Linked DNA regions of Homo sapiens. The protein of the gene in region 1 interacts with the protein of each later gene in a pairwise test. Each region holds a gene or a part of one and is shown in the gene's direction. Other genes may lie near its edges. The genes, in order: ZNF330, RBAK and CNNM3.

The links.
Region 2: the proteins of ZNF330 (region 1) and RBAK interact in binary tests that used the Homo sapiens proteins (3 or more experiments, as listed by UniProt).
Region 3: the proteins of ZNF330 (region 1) and CNNM3 interact in binary tests that used the Homo sapiens proteins (3 or more experiments, as listed by UniProt).

What each region holds. Positions count from the first base shown.
Region 1 is NC_000004.12:141,219,129-141,222,876, forward strand, and holds the start of ZNF330 (zinc finger protein 330), read left to right. Parts: upstream 1-1,766; 5' UTR 1,767-1,980; intron 1,981-2,028; exon of another isoform or gene 2,029-2,357; intron 2,358-3,237; 5' UTR 3,238-3,243; coding exon 3,244-3,363; intron 3,364-3,748.
Region 2 is NC_000007.14:5,043,774-5,047,521, forward strand, and holds the start of RBAK (RB-associated KRAB zinc finger protein), read left to right. Parts: upstream 1-2,086; 5' UTR 2,087-2,623; intron 2,624-3,748. UniProt on the Homo sapiens protein: May repress E2F-dependent transcription. May promote AR-dependent transcription.
Region 3 is NC_000002.12:96,819,254-96,823,001, forward strand, and holds part of CNNM3 (metal transporter CNNM3 isoform 1 precursor), read left to right. Parts: intron 1-3,748. UniProt on the Homo sapiens protein: Probable metal transporter.

The sequences.
Region 1 (3,748 bases):
AAAAAATCTATATGAGGATTTGATTTGAATTGCATTGAATTTATAGAATATTTCAGTTCCTTATAATTTTCATATCCCAAATTGCTTATTATAATTTTGTCGTTTTATATAATGTTTTAGATTTACCCTATATATTAAATAAATTGATTATTATTACTTTTTGTATTCCCTCCTGCCTTTTAAATTCCATTTTCATCTTGTGAAGACTGCCCTTTGAAATTCTTTCACTGAGTATCTGTGAATAGTAAAGGTTCTTTGTCTTTGTCAGAATATTTATTTTGCCATCACTCTTGGTAGTGAATACTGGCAGGCACTACCCAGATCCCTCTTCCTCAATGAAAGACTTATTTCCTGAGCTGCTGAGAGTGCAGCAAGCCAACACAATCCAGCTCTTGGCCATCTTCAGGAGTCCTTTAACCCAAGGTTGCACTCTTCTCCTTTGGCAGCGTTCATCCAGTGACTAAATGTCATAGGTGTATAAAGGTCCAGCCCAGTTCCCCTAACTCAAGACAACTCTGAAGGGATATCCCAGATTCAAAACGAGGCCTTCACTGAGACGTCACTGCAGGTCAACTCTTCCCTCTGCTCAATCCTGCTTCCATTTCTCCTGCAGATGTTGTTCCCCAAAGCATTCCCTAACATACTCATTATACTCTTCTCTGACTCAGAGTATGCTTCCTGGGGAAGCCAACCTAAAACAGTTGGTGTCAGGAGTGGTTCAAGTTAGGCTAAGATGGGATTTATGATTCGAATCACAGGCCATGTGACTATCAATGAGGACCCCCTCGGTGGTAGGTGTAGGACACACAGACCTCGGCACAAGGTAACAGTGCAATAGTTACAACTTTCATCAGTAATGAAACTGGGGTGGTATTCTAACGTAACTGGGGTGGTATTCTAATTTATATACGAGTAGGTAAAATGTATCAGGCATTTGAGAACTATGAGGGAAATAGTAACCTTAATGACAGTGGCATTGACTGTTATTGCTAAGTAAAATTGATTCTTTGAAAATAGCAAAAGGCTGAGATGGTTAATTGGCTATCAAAATCTAAGAGTAAATTCCAGAAGGCCTCTTTGGTCCAAATAAAGAGGCTTTTATCTCCTGCAGGGGGAGGGCAGGAAAAGCACAGGAATAGGCCTGGTACTGAATCCTAAGTGCGGCAGAGCTCCGAAAGAGATTAGGAAACCCAGCTTGGTCGGCTATGCAAAGGTGGAGGTGCTTGATCGGAAGGAGATTCTGATGCAGGGGGAGGATCATCAGGTTTCAGTTAAAAGCAGGCAGATTACACATTAGAGGTAGAGAATGTGGGATGATTTGTTCACAAAGGAATGGAATCCAGAGGGCATAACAGAAATAAGAGACAGGGGAGGCTGGTACGGAAGTTCATCAGGCAACTGAAGGCACAGTTTGCGCAGCAACCAAGAAAAGGTGGGATGTGAGGCACGCAAGATGTAGAGGTGGGGAAAGGTTTCCAACAGAATTCAACATGAATTTGCTGTTTGAGTCAATTGATCCAGTACCAAGTCTGTGAGTTCATTTTCCTCTTCCTTTTAGATTTCTCCTTTTTCTAAAAAAGTAAAACTGAGGGGGCCTTCCCCTGCTTTCCCTCCTTCTGCTTCCCTATTTTCCCTCGCATTCCCTTCCTTTTCTGCAGATCCTCTGCTTAGGAATGGGGCATTGGCCCCCGCAGGAGTGGGCGGGGAAGGGGCGGAGCGAACAGAGGTGGGCGGCTCCCGTCCTATGACGTCAGCCGTAAGGCGCTGCTGTCGTAAAAGGACGTCCGGTCCGTCTCCTAGTGTCCGGAATCGGCTGTCAGCCTCCCTGGCTGTTAGTACCTTCTTTCCCGGAGTCCTGGTCCACGAGTTGGATTTACTGCTGTCGCGGGTGGGCCTCACGCCATTCCCTGTCCCTCGGCCCCCTGAGTGAGTCCGGTCTCCCGGCGAAAGTGAGCGAGGTTTGCCCGGAGCGCGCACGAGGTAGGGTGTCCCGCGGGCGGGTGACGGTTGCGGGTCCCCGTTGCGGGTCCCCGAGCCGCCTGGCACCTCCGCCGCTTCTCCCCTGGACGCCCCTCCGCCCCACTGGGTCCTCCAGCTCCAGGCTGGACTCCTAAAGCCGCAGTGCCCCGTGCCTGTTTCCTCATTTGGTGACACACGCAGTGCATGCAAGAAGTTGGAGTGTTACCGGAAAAGGGCTTGAACCCGTATAAGGCTGAGAAGAAGATTCACTCTTTTGAGCGTGCAGAACAAACTGGAGGGAAAAAAAAATGAGATTTAACTTTATCAGAGGATTCAGAGGATATCTCTGAGGACGCAGAAAGTTAATCCGCATGATCACCTCGTGATTATTTTCTGAGGTTCTTTGGCCAGGGCAGCACGCCCTCTAGATTTTGTCATTTTACATATTGGAATGGTGCCTTAGTGGTCTGGGCGTTACGTTACCGAAATAACCACCTATTAAATCTGGCTATTTTTCAGTTGCTACCGTACTGCTTACCACCTGTTTTGTTTTTTTTTTAATTGAGCATTCAGTTCAGAAAACTTCAGTTTAGAAAAATCTTGTATTTCAACTAAATGATGAAAATTAAACATACTCTTAAACGTAAATTTGAACCCCGTTAAAATTACATGCTCACTGCGTGTAGAGGGAAGAGCATTTGTTAAAGTCAGAGCAACTAATACCTTAAATATCTTCAGAATGTTTTGACTTTGTAGTTAATAAATAGTGTTATTTGTTGACTGTTAGATGTTTTGTTTACATATTACATAGGAAAAATTAAACTTGTTATACTTAAGGTGTTGGCAGCGTCAGGTCATCTGAATATATAGCTCAAAAAAGTGATATAAACTGGCTAAATAATGCTCTTATTAATGATTTTTTTGTTTTTGCTAATGATACATGATTCATTTGTTTTAATGAGGTGCAGAATACTTTATCATTGGAGAAACTTTTTTCTTAGTGGGAAAAGAAGACTAGTTTGTCTTTTAGGGTAAATTTTTTTGACGTTTACATTTTTAGAATCGTTAGTGCCAATAAATGCGTTAAGGATCACCCGCTTCATTTGGAATAATATGTGCTTAACGTTTCATAAGGCTTAGAATGTGCTTAACTATCGAAAGGATAGAGTTTAACATTTAACAAGAAAAAGGACACTTTGTTATACTATTTCTTAGTTTATTAAAATAGTAAATGCAGTCAGTCAATTATATCTTTTCTGTTCTCTTGTGTCAAAATAGGGGAAAATGCCTAAAAAAAAGACTGGTGCGAGGAAGAAGGCTGAGAACCGCCGAGAACGTGAAAAACAACTAAGAGCATCAAGAAGCACTATAGATTTAGCTAAACATCCATGTAATGCCTCAATGGTATCAGCTTTTTTTGATATCAGTTGGTAGTTGGAAAAACTATATACTATTTTATCTGACGTATACCTGAATAAAATTTTAGTGAAGACAGTGTTTTTGCATATAGTTTGTTGCTGAATTTAGTATCTCTGGCACGTCTGTTGATTTCACTGAGTGGCAGTGATTGTTGTTGGATTTTATATTATTATAAAACCTAGCATATTACTTTACATACTGTTGGTGATAAAGGTAGATATTGGACAAGAATAGATAATAGAAACTTTCATCTTCCAGTTTCTTTAATGCCTTAGTCTTATTGGGTTTTCATCATATTTTCTTAGCAATTCTTTCATTTCTCTTTTCTGAACTTCCTACTTAACATCTGTTGGCTTCCCATTCTATTACC
Region 2 (3,748 bases), on another chromosome or scaffold:
ACTGACATTTTAATTGTAAAGCAAAAATAAAATTCTAAGCCCCCACAACTGACTGAATGGACTCCCCTGTCGGCCAGCAAGATCCAAAATAAACATGAAAAACTAATTCAGGTCATGATGGGAAGGAGGGGGTCGGACATGCCTTGTCATACTCTCCTCCCTTCAGAGTTTAGGCACAGCTGACCAACATTAACACTAGAATACAGATCATAAGACTGACAGAACAGGCTCTTTGTATCAGTAAGATACCCAACTCCATCCAGACTCTGATATAGCATCACATGACAGATAGCAGTCCCTGAAGGAAATCATAGTATTTTATCCCATAATATATTTTCTTTGACACACTTTAAAATAGTCCTGCAAAGCCATCTCTTTGGGGGAAATTTGCATTCTGTAGAGAATCTCCTTCCCTTACAGAAAAGAAGTCTTTTCTGGAGATTCTGACACCTTTTAAGATCCAATAAGAGATATTTATCATCTATTCTCTCTGAAGCCTGTTCTGAGGCTTCATCTACATAACAAGAACCTTGGTTTCCACAATGCCCCTTATCTTAACTCAAGCTTTTCTTTTCTTTCCCTCCCTCTTTCTTTTCCTTCCTTCCCTCCTTCCTCTCTCTCTTTTCCTCCCTCTCTTTCTCTCTTTCTTTTCTTCTCTGTTGCCCAAGCTGGAGTGCAGTGGCACCATCATGGCTCACTGTAGCCTCAACTTCCCAGGCTCAAGCAATCCTCCCATCTCAGCCTCCTGAGTAGCTGGGACTACAGGCATGCACCACCACACCTGGATAATTTTTTTTTTTGTAGAGGTGGGGGTCTCGCTGTGTTGCCCAGGCTGTCCTTCAACTCCTGGCCTCAAGGGATCCTCCCAGCTCACCCTCCCAAAATGCTGGGATCACAGGCATGAGCCACCGCAATGGCCCATTTCTTCATGTCGTTTTCCAACTGTTCAGCCAACGCTTAACTCTGAACCAACTGCCAATCTTTGAATCTGCTAGTGACCTGAAAGCCTTTCCAGGCTGACCCAATGTGTACCTCTCATGTATTGATTTATGTCTTTGCCTGTAACTGCTGTCTCCCTAAGATGTATAAAACCAAGCTGTAACCCAACCACTTTGGGCTCACGTTCTCAGGACCCCCTGAGGCTGTGTCACCAGCCATGGTCACTCAAGTAGGAGGCCCAGAATAAAACTCTTGACAGACTTTGAGTCTTTTTGGTCAACATAACCTAACCCTAAACATAATCCTCCTGGGGAAGGTGAGATCACAGGTATCTCTTTTCTTCGTTCGATCTGTGTATTTCCTGATTTCTCTACAGTTTTTAGGCATTCGCTGTGTGATCTAGAAAAGCTACAGAGTCTCGCTCCGTCGCCAGGCTGGAGTCCAGGGGCGCGATCTCGGCTCACTGCAACCTCCACCTCCCGAGTTCAAACTATTCTCCTGCCTCAGCCCCCGAGTAGCTGGGATTACAGGCACACGCCACTACTCCCAGCTAATTTTTGTATTTTTGGTAGAGAAGGGATTTCACCATGTTGGCCAGGATGGTCTCTATCTCTTGACCTCGCGATCCGCCCGCCTCGGCCTCCCAAAGTGCTGGGATTTATAGGCGTGAGCCACCGCGCCCAGCCACAAATTCTATTTTCTTTCTCTTCCTTGGAAAGCATCGCTGGGCATTTATCCTGTCCTAGTATTTGAGTGAAACTTCTCTTAGCATTTCAGCGCAGTGACCACGATACACCCTTTCCTTTCCTTCTCTTTATGGGAAACTCGGTTCTAACCCAGAGGCCTTGGGCTCCAGGACCCAGTCAGGCAGCCCTGGACTTGACCCTAAAAGGGAGTAAAGACAAATGCGAAGTTCAATCAGGGGTTCAGAGCTCCCAAAGCTCATAGCCTGGAGCTTCTTAACCTTTAGGCAGGGTAGAGACATTTAAAACGGCCCCTAAACTTGGGGGGCGCGTAGGCTCATGGGAAATAGAGTAGGGTGCTTGTCCTGGGACCAGCTGTGGGCCCCGGAGGCTGACTTCCGGTGCACTCCTGCGCGTGTGCACCTCTCTCTGTGTGCGTGTTCGCGCATGCGCGCCGCCGCTGCACTGCCCTCGCTTCCTGTGCGTCCTCAGGTCACCGCTTGCTCTAGTTCCCAGGCTTTGGCCTCCAGTGGACGAGAATCGCGGAGCCTGCGGGGCTGGAGGTTGAGCGCCCGGGCCAGCACCTAGGCGGGCGCGGGGGTGTGCAGGCCAGGGTTCGCGCGGGCCGGGTGGAGGCTTGAGCGGGGACCCCCGAGCTTGAGCCCCGGAGCCGGCGGCGCTGGGGCCAGAGGGGCCGGACGGGAGGTGGCGGAGGTGGCGGCGGAGGCGAAGGGGCGGCGGGACGCGGGCCTGGCCCGTGTGTGTCCTGGCGGCCTGGCCCAGGCTGCCGCTGTACGGTGAGCCCGAGGGAGGCGGATCTGGGTCCCGGGAAGGACACCCGCCTGGATTTGCCCCTTAGGCCCGGCCCGGGCCCCTCGGGAGCAGAACAACCTTAGTGAGGTGGACAGGAGGGGACCTCGCGAGCAGACGCGCGCCAGCGACAGCAGCCCCGCCCCGGCCTCTCGGGAGCCGTGGGGCAGAGGCTGCGGAGCCCCAGAAGGGTAGGTCTTGGGTTTTCGGGCCCGGAGCGAGAAGGGCCTGAGTGAAGTCACCGTGTGTTGGGGACCTTAGAGTGTGGGGCAGGGGGAGGGTCTCGATCGCTTGCAGGAGAGACGTGTGTTTGGGTTTGAGGGCAGGGTCCGGCTGCACCGAACAGGCGCTGCATGGGAAATCTGGGAGGACGAGGCTTATGGGGGCCTGGAGGGTGTCACCAGCCTCAGCTGCGGACGTCGTCTCCACTCCCCGCTAACCCCTAACAGCCCTTCCTCCTCCTTTCCGTGCTCCAGATTTCGACCTCCTCTAAACGTCCGTCAGCGCCTCTGTTCTCTCATTTAAGTGTCTGCTGATTCCCCCCTTAGATCTGCCCTGGAGACTGGTAGTAATGCAGGAACAGTCTGCAGGGATTCTCTCTTGCTGCCTCAGTTGCTAGGGGAAGAGACTGGGCCTTAGCAGGTGGGTGACTTGACCGGGTCACTGGCTTTGTGGGTAGAGTTGCTCATAGTAGAACTCAGGAGTCTTATCTCCCAGGCCAGTGTTCTTTCTCCCGTATCCTAGTTTTCTTAATAGAAGATTATTAGGTGCAGCAATAACCAAGTTCAGTTAGATAATTTAGAAACAAAACCATATTTTATACACATTCATTTCATTTCTGAGAGCTCACATACTCAATTCCTATGGCTTCTTTGATTTTAAGCAGTTTAAAGAGACAATAAGAAAATGCGGGCCGGATGCAGTGGCTCACACCTGTAATCCCAGCACTTTGCGGGGGCTAAGGCAAGAGTATCCCTTGAGACCAGGAGTTAGAGACCAGCCTAGGCAACATAGGGAGACCCTGACTCTACAAAAAATACAAAAGTAGCCAGGCATGCTGGGATGCACCTGTGGTCCCAGCTACTCAGGAGGCTGAGGTGGGAGGATCAATGGAGGCCAGGAGGTCGAGGCTGCAGTGAGCTGTGAATGCACCACTGCACTCCAGCCTGGGTGGCAGATTGAGACCCTGTCTCAACAAACAGACAAACCACAAAAAACATGAGCTGTATAATGGGAATTTTTTTTTTCTTTTTGCAGGTTGTATTTGATGATGGCAGACTATTTGTAAAAGGAGTCATGTTACCCATGAGAGTCTC
Region 3 (3,748 bases), on another chromosome or scaffold:
TGAGGCAGGGGTGGTTCTCCTGGTGTGGTGGCCAACATTGCAACCCTGGAATCAGCGGAGTAGGTTCCATCCTGCCCTTGCCTGCCCCCAGGCCCTGAAGGCTGCTCAGCCTCTTGTGGTGCAAAGTCCTCTGCTGTTAGTGATAAGAGTGGGTAAACAGACCTGCGGGGGGAGACTCATCAAGCACTTTGGCCAGTGCCTGGCGTGCATATGCTGTGTGCTTGGCGTTAGCAGGTGGTTCTTACTCCGGGACAGGCTCTGCTGGTAGGTGAGCTGTTTGCCAATCCAGGAGCAAGGGGTGAATCTGGAATTGCAGATTTCTGTTCTTCTAGGCAGGTCACCAGACTTCCTTTTTTTTAGGGAAAAAGTGGAAGACTGTAGCTGTCCTTTTGGTGTTCAAAGCACTCACGTTTCTAGATTCTTTAAGAAAAAGCTCACTCTGGTGTCTGGCTTCAGCTGGCTGCTGCTTTCAACAGTTGAGCAGTCACCAAGCAGAGATTTGGAGCAGCGGAGATGGAAGGGTTGTCCTGTTCAGAACTAAAGGCAACTTCTGTAGTTGGTCATGATGCTCAGGATGAGGCTGGTGAAAGTGGTCTTTCATTTTCCAAACCGCCAGTGTCAGGATCTTCGCTGCCATGGTCTTGTCTTTCAGATGCGATGGATGAGCTTGGTCCAGGGTGGTTGGGGATTCCACTTGGGGAAGAATAAAAAATGTTCATGTTCGTTGGGAAGGAGCGCAGAGGCAGGATGTCCCCTGGCGGGGGGGCTTGTGTGCTGTGTAAGGAACTTGTACTTGATCACCAGGGCCATGAGCATCAAGCAGCAGCATCAGTTATTTTTACAGATCAGTAACAATTGTGGACACCAGCGCAGGGAGACCAGCGGTGTGAGGGATCCAGGTGAGAGGGGATGATAACCTGAACAAGGTTCATGGCAGGCCTGGAGAGGAGCCCCAAGAGGGCAGCAGAGGTGGAATTGGGAAGATTGGTATCTGGCAGCAGGGCTATGCAACAAGGAGGAGCAGCTGAGGATGAGGCCCAGATTTCTGGCTGTGTGGTGGCGGTGCGCCTTCACTAAGGGCCGGGCGTGGGGAGCAGGTTTTGGCCATTGAATTTGTGTCTGTGCAGTGTCCCAAGAGGCAAACTCCTAGCAGGCCGTTGATGTGAAATGCAAGTGGGAGGCAGAATAGGAGTGTCTCTCAAGTCATGGGAGGGAGGCAGAGAGCCTCAGCCTCCTAGGAGCACAGGTGTGTCAGGGGCAAGGGAAGCCCAGGAGAAGCTGGCCAGGAGGAGGCAAGACCAAGGAAGGAGGAGTTCCCGAGATGCGGAATGTCCTGGAAGCTAAGGGAAGAGACCACTTTCCCAGGGAAGGTGAGTGACAGGAGAGGAGGCCAGCAAACAGGATGCCGTTGACCTTTGCAAGAGCAGATTTGGTGCCACGGCAAGGGAGCCATTTGGGGAATGAATGAGGTGTGGAAAGGTACGAGAACCAATGTAGACAGCCCTCCACAGAGTGTGGCTGCAGAGAGAAGTGACTGGCAGAGGATGTGGGACAGGGGAGGAGGCCTTCTGCTGTTTGGTTTTAAGATGGGCAAGTCCAGTAGGTTCAGATTGAAATGCAGGTTGAAATGTAGCTAGGAAGGAAATTAGAGAGGCCAGGGTCCGGGCTGCTCCTGTTCTGGGCTGGGTGGCCTCCAGGCAGGTCACAAGCAGCCCGATGCAGGAGGATTTGGGGTTGAGTGCCTCTGCTTGAAACAGACCTTTCTAAAAGCTGCCTGACAACATGCTGAAAAGGATCCCCTTGGAAGACAGTGGGGGAGGTTTTTGGAACCTGGAGGTTAAATGGGGAGCTCTTTAATCCCCCTTGACTTCCCCGCTCCTGTGGTGAGTGAGGGCCATTCGTGGGCAGACTGGCCATGTCTTTCTGGTGACATCCCGGAGCTTTTTTCTCTGCTTCTCTAGTTCAGTGCAGTCCTTTGGCAAATATCTTTATTTTTTCCGTGTTAAAGTCCTTTTTGTCCTTCCTAACCTTCTTAAGCATTCCTCCACTTAGGAACAAAGGGCATATTGCAGTCTTTGTGGCGTGTGAGGTTTTAAAAATCGATTCCCTTTCCATCTCTCTGCCAAGCTAATGAGCCTCTGAATTTCGTGGAGCTGGAGTCCCTGCCATCTTGGCAGCTTTCATTCCGGGTCTTGTTTCTTTTGCTGTGTCTGCTAGGGAACTTTGTAGTCTGGGGGCAAGGTAACCTCCCCAGCAAGGCGCCCCTCAATCAGTGCCAACTTGAGATGACGTGCTGATTATTTTGTGCAGACGTCACCAGGAAGAGTGAGTGCTTTGGAGCCATAATAAATAACTTGGACAGCTGCTCCTTGACTTACAAATGGAGTTATGTCCTGATAAACCCATTGTAAGTTGAAAATACCTTAAGTCAAAAATGTGTTTGATACATCTAACCTACCAAACCAAATAGTTCAGCCTGGCCCACCTTAAACATGCTCAGAACACTTACTTTAGCCTGCAGTTGGGCAAAGTCATCTAACACAAAACTATTTTAAAATAAAGTGTTGAATATCTCATGTAATTTATTGACTGCTGTACTGAAAGTGAAAACAGAATGGTTATATGTGTTTGAAGTATGGTTTCTACTGAATGCATATTGCTTTTGAACCATCAAATTTGAAAAATTGTAATTTGAACCATTGTTAAGTAAGGGACCTTAATGTACAAAAGAACATTATTATTATTATTATTATTTTTTTTTTTTTTTTGAGATGGAGTGTTGCTCTCTTGCCAGGCTGGAGTGCAGTGGCACAATCTTGGCTCACTGCAACCTCTGCCTCCCGGGTTCAAGTGATTCTTCTGCCTCAGCCTCCTGAGTAGCTGGGACTACAGGCGTGCACCACCACGCCCAGCTAACTTTTTTATGTTTTTAGGAGAGATGGAGTTTCACAATGTTGGCCAGGATAGTTTCGATCTCTTGACCTTATGATCCGCCCGTCTCGGCCTCCCAAAGTGCTGGGATTACAGGTGTGAGCCACTGCGCCTGGCCAAGAACATTATTATTATTATTTTTGAGACAGAGTCTTGCTCTGTCACCTGGGTTGGAGTGCAGTGATGTGATCGTGGCTCACTGTAGCCTCTACCTCCTGGGCTCAAGTGATCCTTCCACTTCAGCCTCCTGAGTAAGCTGGGGCCACAGGTGAACACCACCATCCCCAGCTAATTTTTAATTTTATGTAGAGATTGGGGTCTCCCTATGTTGCCCAGGCTGGTCTCAAACTCCTGGCCTCAAGCGATCCTCCCAGCTCAGCTTCCCAAAGAGATGGGATTACAGGTGTTTCCCACTGTGCCTGGCCGCAGTCTCTGCTTTAAAGGAACCCAGCTCTGGTTTCCTGTCTGCTGGGAGCCAGATGATTGCCATGATGCGGAAAAGAGTCTGACCAGCTCCAACAGCAGTGAGGAGCGTCAGCACACTACTTTTGTCTTTCTCACAGTATTCATTCATTCACTGAGGTGCTTTAGAAAACAGAAGAGAGAAGGTATTCCAACTGTTATTAACATCATAGAAATTGGGCATTATGAAAGGGTACTTTGGCATTCAAATAATTGGGGTACCCTGGAGCCTGCTAACTAAAATTAAACTTGAAGCTTTTCCAGGGCTTTCTGCTTGACGTTGGCAAGACACACTGTGAGCTGCTCGTGGCTCCTTGGAGCTGGCCTGTGGGCAGGCATCAGTGTGAGTGGTTCC